Linked DNA regions of Homo sapiens. The protein of the gene in region 1 interacts with the protein of each later gene in a pairwise test. Each region holds a gene or a part of one and is shown on either strand. Other genes may lie near its edges.

Evidence for each region. Proteins that work in one complex are often made in the same cells at the same time.
Region 2: the proteins of EIF5A2 (region 1) and RAB30 interact in a two-hybrid assay, tested with the Homo sapiens proteins (one large-scale study listed by BioGRID and IntAct).

The regions. Positions count from the first base shown.
Region 1 is NC_000003.12:170,905,838-170,909,942, forward strand, and holds the start of EIF5A2 (eukaryotic translation initiation factor 5A-2), read right to left. Parts: upstream 2,801-4,105; 5' UTR 2,706-2,800; intron 2,005-2,705; 5' UTR 1,970-2,004; coding exon 1,805-1,969; intron 1,257-1,804; coding exon 1,152-1,256; intron 1-1,151. UniProt on the Homo sapiens protein: Translation factor that promotes translation elongation and termination, particularly upon ribosome stalling at specific amino acid sequence contexts.
Region 2 is NC_000011.10:82,988,398-82,991,897, forward strand, and holds part of RAB30 (ras-related protein Rab-30), read right to left. Parts: intron 1-3,500. UniProt on the Homo sapiens protein: The small GTPases Rab are key regulators of intracellular membrane trafficking, from the formation of transport vesicles to their fusion with membranes.

The sequences.
Region 1 (4,105 bases):
AAATCATCCAACTAGAAAGTGACAGAACTAGATCCAAACCCAGATCTACCTGGTTAAAAAAACCCACTTGCAAGACAATTCAAATTTCTACAAAGACTTCAAAGCAACCTAGAAAACATTTATGACAAGTAGGAAAGTGAAAATATAAAAGTGTTTACTAGATTAAAACCACAAAAAAGTATGTTTGCATGTGGACAAACAGCAAAAGGAAATCATTGCGTAAGTGCAGTTGATAGCAACATTAAAAGAAATTTATACAATACAACAAAGGGTACAGAAAAAAATCAGTTTAAGTCGGATAAAACAAATACCAGTGTCAACTTTGTATTTTTCACTATGTAAAATGAGCAGAAATGAGTTTGATATATGGTATGCTTGATACAGAAATTGAAGACTTTCAAGAAAAGCTTTAGTTATAAGTAATCTGAGCTTCCACATCCTATAAGGTCAATTATTTTGTTATCATCAATACTTCAAACAACAAAATGCTATCATTAAATATGACCTACCCAAATGTATAACTGGAACTAAAACTTGAAATTTACATACATAATTTAGCAAAAGGTCATAGCATGGTCACTAAGTATAATTTAACCAATTATATAGTTTTTGTGTTTTCTTCACCATACTCAGTGACCAGGTACTTTATCCTTTATATTTATGGCTTTCAACTTATTTCTCTACTTAAGAATGTCAAGTTCTGACTAACATTCATTAATGCAAAAACTTGGTAGGAACATGAATTTCAGTAGTTTCTTGAATGTCTCAGGTCTGATCAGTGAAAAGAAACAAAACATCCAGGAGGGATGTTTTAAATTAGAACAAGAAATATTTTACAACAGAGAGAATAGTACTTTTACTAAACATTGGACTTAATTGCAATATGCAGTCACTTGGCCTGAGAACACTAATAAGTATTTGACTTTTTAAAAAATGCAAGAATGTGAAAAAAATAGCAAACTAGCAATAATCCTAGAAAAGTACATGTGTTAAACATCACTATTTCTCCAATTTCTAAGATAGCTGGTGCCTAATAATTGGTTAGAAAAACCTACAAAACTACTCTTGGGTTTTGTCAAATTATTACTGATAGTACAAAGTATTTGCACCTTGAAGAAACAAGCAACATTCTAAAGAAAATCAGTGCTTACTTGATAATCATTTCTCTTAATATTTGGAACATCCATGTTGTGAGTAGAAGGACAAATATCTTCATATTTTTTGCCCGTGAAAATATCAATTCCAACAAGGTGAACCTAACAGAGGAGAACAGGAAACCTGTTTAATCTCTGCCAAGTATATCACTCATTACACACACAAGAGCACAATACCAATGCTGATTACAACAGATTCTTTTTCTCCTCCTTCCAAGGTCATCTAATTTTACTTAAAAAAAAATGTAGTGGTCTTACAATTAAGAGGCAGTAAACAACTAAACAGTATCACGACATGTCAAGACCCAATATAGACCAGTGATTCAATTATGAGATTACACAAGAAAAATAAAGTGTAGATTTCTTAGAATTGCTAGAACAGGTTTTCTCATCTGTAAACTAAATAGATCTTATAGGTCACTAGGATTCAGGAAAGTTTCAGTTCCCAGTTAATGAACATTGTAAGGGCCCAAGAAGGGAATGCTACCTTTAAGTATTCAACGTAATAACTGATTACCCAGTAATTGTGGGAAGGAAAAAATAGTGCTTATTACAAAATTTTAAGTATAGAAATCTCATGATCTGTAACGGAATACAAATGATCAAAGTCCCAACGCCGAAGCCAAAGCCTGATCTGCAAGGGTACTTACCTTGGCATGACCATGCTTTCCAGTTTTGGAAGTTGACATCTCCACTATTTTGCATGGTCGTCCTTTGAGCACCACGAAGCCGTTTTTGCGCAAGGCCGAGCACTGCATAGGGTAAGTGCTGGAAGCCCCGGCATCTCCAGTAGTGAAATCAATTTCGTCTGCCATGGTGGGCAGGGGAGATGGTAGTTTTTCCGTGGGAACTACACAAAAAGTTTGTGTTTGCTTTTTAACAACGGGTATGTAGGCAGGGAAACGTCTCATTTCGGACAAGTTATGTGCCAAGCATCATGGGCCCGTTATTTCTGCATGTAAGGAACACCCACCCTAGACTAGTGGCCACTTTCTAACTCTGGCCTCTACAAACTTTTCCAGCTACTGCTTGGGGAGGTGGGATGAGAAGTCGCAGAGGAGCTCGCTGAGGGTGGGGACACCCGCCCTGGGCGCTCCTCCGTGCTGGAAACAGCAGGTTGCGGCCCCCATCGCCCCACCGCAGAAGCCGGCGACCTTCCCCCGCCGCCCAGCCCTCGGCCGCCGCCCCGAACCCTACTGCGGGGGACCCAGCCCAGGCCGCAGGTCCCCGCGAAGGATGCGGGGTAACAGAACCTGGCCAGCAGCACCCGGCCCTCTGCTAGCTGGCGCGCACCCCGCCCTCCACCCTTCAACGTCGCCGCCGCGGCCGCACAGGCGCCCCCTGTTCTGCCGGCATCCAGGGCTCAGCTCGGCCCGGCCCGGCCCCACTAGGGCCTGAGCCCCGGCGGGTCCCGCGCTCGCCTCTGTTCCCCCATCCATTCTCCTTCTTTCTCTCGGTCAGCGCTCAGTTCTGGGCGCCTTCCCCGGCCCTGCCTCACTCTGGCCCCATCCCCACCAGCTTTTCCCCACCAGCTTTTCCCCAGGTCTTCACCTTTCAGCTGGCAAAGAGCGCCTTTCGTCTGCGCACCCGCGCTGGTCCCCTACAGCAGCGGCGCCGGCAGCGGCGGTGGCGGCCGCGGCAGTTCCAAGAGACGGGGCGGGGCCGCCACACTTTCCACACCCCAGCCTCCCCGCCCTTACCCGCCCCCACTCAGCCCTATTTCCGGGATAGGCCCCGGAGCGTCACAGGCACCGCCCTCTCGGGCTACCATTGGCTACCAGATTCCCGAGGCTCCGCCCAGTCACGTGAAGAGCGCCCTGGCAACCCCACGTGCTGCGGATTAGTGCACTTCCGGCGTGGAGCGCACTTTCAGCAGTCTGGTTGCCGAGGGTGAGCTCGCTGGCAGAGGAACTTGCGCCTTCCAACTCTTAGGTTTGTTGCGTTCGGGTCGCAGTCGACTTTAATGGGAACCAAGCAAAGCACCCAATGGCCCCTGCCATCAGGTGCGTGGCAGTTATCACATGACGATCGTCAGAACTCGCGAGGCGCGCAGATTCAGCGAGTGCCAGTGTGGCTGGCTGTGAAGCGAACTTTGGGTTCGAGCTTCTGGTTCAGCTTGCAGCCTTTCTTGGGGTTCGAACCTCCTCCTGGTCCTTAAAGAAGAATTCAGGTGCAGTATTTTATTACCCAGCTCGGCACCGCAGGTCCTGAGGACCCCCCATTCACCCCTTGGTGAGATTTTTGGCAGCGACTGCCGCCGGATGCCCCTGTAGAGTCAGCACTGCTCCCTGGGGTGGGAACTCCCGAAGCGTCCGCCAGCTAACAAGCCAGCAGTGAAATGAATTAACCCACTTCTCACACCAAAGGCTGTTGGGAAGTTGTGGAGGCGAAGGGTGTCTGACTCCTACGGCATTGTGGGTCCAGAGAGGTGTTCTGCCGACTCATCCATTCTTTCCTCCTGGCATTGGCATTCCTTAGAGTTTGGGGTTTAACCCTGGCACATTAGAACGCTTGGATGGTCTTCAAAATTGACCTAGAGCTTGTAGACTGCCATAGAAAGGTTCTTAAAAGAGATGTGCTCCCCCTTCACAGTTTCATTTCGCAACCTACCGCAGTATCCTATCTTGGGGAGGTGATCTAGGAAATTATTTCCCATCCCACACCCGCATTTATGTGGTAACTTTGATTTCCTATTGCTGTCTCATGAATAATCCCATATCTCACATTCCTGTATGACTCTACAGTTTACACATATCTTTCAAACAGGTCCAATTTAACTTTCGCAATAAGTTACTGCCCTCTCATGTACTGAATTCAGCCTCTAGCTAATATACAAAGGAGCCATTACAGCAGTGGCTCATGCCTGTAATCCCAGCACGTTGGGAGGCTGAGGCAGGTGGGTTCCCTGAGCTCAGGAGTTCGAGATCAGCCTGGGCAGCATCGTGAAACCC
Region 2 (3,500 bases), on another chromosome or scaffold:
TTCAAATGGATGTATTAAGGTATTATCTTTGTTAAAGAAAACAGGAATCATGCCATGGCAGACAACAATATAATTTTCCTTCAGGTCTCTTAAGTTCTATGACCTTGGCCAAGTCACTTAATCTCTTTGGGCTTTGATTATTTCTTTATAAAAAGTGGTTAATAACACACAACCTGCTGAAGGTTCACTTTTTCTGCAGTTATCTACCAGTTCTAAGTCCTAATAACTAATAATTCTAATAACAAAGAAGAAGACAATACTTGTCAATTTCCCTGCACAGAGTAGACAACTACTGAAAACGAATTATTCTCCAGGGTGGCTGCTAAGTGTAGAACAAAACACAAGGCCTTGAGAAATAAGAACATCAACAAAAACAATAATCTTTCCTTCTAATTGCACGAATTTCACAGGTCACAGGTGTATTCATGTCCAGGGACATAAGATTGCTTCCTCAGGAAGGCTTTCCAGAACCTTCAGATTAGGCTAGGTTCCCCACCCCCCCACCCCACACAGTCTCTCTTGCGATACATCCTGTCATTCTCCCTCATGGCACCTGACATGCCTGAATCATTTATTTGTAATAATTTGTTTAATAGCCATCTTTCCCACTAAACTGAAAGCTTCATGAGGGAGACGTCAGGGTCCATTTAGAGCAAATAGAGCACTTGGCAAATAGGAGGTGCTCAAATATTTACTGATGGTCTCATTTAATCTTTACAACAATCCAGTGAGGTAGGCAAGTGTACACCTCCCCGTATTAATGGAAACTGTCCCTTAACTAACTGGTTATTCACAAAGCTAGGACATGGCATCCAGGCCTTCTATTTCCAGTTGAGGACTCATTCCATGCTCCCATGCTGCTGTTGCCACCAAAGACTAACTAAAATGTGCATCTGTATCCAAAGAGGATGAATCCATTGCTGTCACCCTCTGCTCATACTAGCTTAGCTAAAGAGACTGCTGAGTGACCCGTAGTCCCTGCCATGAATCAGCAGCACACAAAGGCTCTCCTTTGATCTGCAGTTGCAGCTGCTCTTCGATGATACACATGAAAGCCTGTGTATGCTAAAGGCCACTGTACAGATGTTACGGTTTTTGCTGGGACAAAGGCTATTTCTCTTCTCTGCCTCAAACCTAGGGACACGGTTCCCCTCTGCCAGGATGTGTCTTAGAATAATGGGCTATTGTTTTAAAGCTGCACTGAGCCCCTAAAACACTTGTGATTGCGATTTAGGAACTGTTCAGTATTAGAAATCAGTGTGTTCCCACATCTTGAGAACAGCTTCGAGGGTTAAAGTCACTGAAATATTTTCTAGAACAGCGATTGTATGAGCATGCCAAGATATGTTACCTTCTCATAGGGGGCTGCCTGTTTCTAGCTGACAGTTGATTATTGAGGATATTCATATTCTACTGCCTTTGTCACTCAACTTGGTTTCACCATTCTCTGCAATTCATTTGCGCCTTTCGGCATCTATAGGACATTAATATATGCAAGGTACTGTGCTAGGCACATGGAGTATATAAAGATGAATAAAACACAGGGAGGATATAAAGATGAATAAAATCAACGCTGATTTCAAACAGCTCACAGTCTATAGAAAGGACACACACAGTTAATTAACTATAGCAGAATACAAGATGTTCTATTAAAAAGGAAGAGAGCGTCTCCTGCTGTTAGTCTCATGCCTGTCAATATGTTTTCAATACTGTAGCCACGGGCTTTCTAACCACTCTCACCTTCAGCATGTGGCTACATTGTTTGTCTACTCTCTTCTCTGCACCACTACTTAAACTCCATTGCCTCACCGTCATAATAATGTACTGCAATCATTGGTTTACTACTCTACTACTGAGTTCTTTGAGAGCAAAGGCTGTCTTTTATTTGACCTTACACCCCCAGTACCTTCCTAACACAGCACACAGCACGTGGTAGAAACATTTGAATGATGGCTAACTAAATGAACAAAGGATTGTGGAATCACAAGGGAGGAACTGGTCAATTCTACTTAACAGATTAGTAGGGTATTAAAGAAGATTTCACAGATGGAGCTAGATGATAGTAAGTTCCTAAGGGGCAGGGATGCTTTACCACCACAGTGCTTGGCACAAAACATTTACTACAACACAGGATGGAGGAATGAATGGATGGACAGATGGTTGAAGAAACAAATACATATAAATACTTTCATGACTCTCCTATCTATCAACATAGATCTGACTGGAAAGAGATACAGCAAATCTTCTATTTCTATTATGATTTATCTCTTAAGGCTAAAATGGTTTAAATTGAGCTTAGAGTTTTTCTTATTACTCATTAATTTATAATAGACTAAAATATATATGAGAAAGTTCTGTGTTTTTTCCATTTTTTTTATTCTGCTAAAACATACATAAAATTTATCATTTTAACCACTTTTAAGCATACAGTTCAGTGGTCTATATATGTTTTAATTATATTTTCTACCAGAGGTCACCTTCATAATGCAGACCCTTTTAAGAGAAGGGCCTCTTCATTAATTTTGTTTTTACTGATTTGGCGCTTACTTGGCCTTAATAGCTACAAAAATCTAATACCTTGGATTCCCTGCCTTCAATCCTGGGAGCCATCCTGGAAAAAATGATACTTGTAGAGGACACTGATGAGGGTGTCAGGAGAGTGGTCCTGCCACTCACCAAGCGGGTGATGCCATACGAATCACTGGTGGATTCTCTTATCCACTGACTTTATGAGGCTCTGGGAAAGCCCGCAAACTACTAGCAAAAAGACACTTTAACATCACTGAGAAAAGATACTCAGTAAATGTTAAAGAAGAAGGATGACAGGCTGGATGTGGTATCTCATGCCTGTAATCCCAGCACTGTGGGAGGCTGAGGCAGAAGGATTACTTCAGCCCAGGAGTGATCAACATGGCAACATAGTGAGACCCCATCTCTACAAAAAATAAAAATAAAAATGAATAGCTGGGCATGGTGGCACACACCTGTAGTCCCAGCTACTTGGGAGGCTGAGGTGAGAGGATCACTTGAGCCTAGGAGGTCGAGGCTGCAGTGAGCTGTGATTGCACCACTGCACTCCAGCCTAGGCAACAGAGCAAGACCCTTTCTCAAAAAAAAAAAAAAAAAAAAAAAAGATGACAATAAGACAACTATGCAGTTCTGCCCTCTTCTAAGAAAGGATTAAAGAAGTTGTTCCTCATATGCCTACATGTTAATGAGGCCCTTAAATTCATGTGGTTGAAGAGGGCCACCCTGTATCTTTATTTTATATATTGGGCTTGAAAGAATCACAGGCAAGTTGATTTGGACTGGATTTGGGAGATGAGCCAACTGTCACTTTTTATAGATAAAGTTCTAGAAGCCTGAAGAAGTACTGGGGATAGAAAGTGTGCTGTGAATACAAATATGAGTAAGACACAAACCTTGCTCTTGGGGAGCCTGTGGCCTTATGGTGGAGTCAGATGTTATAAAAATATCAATTTTTGCAGTGTAATAAGCAC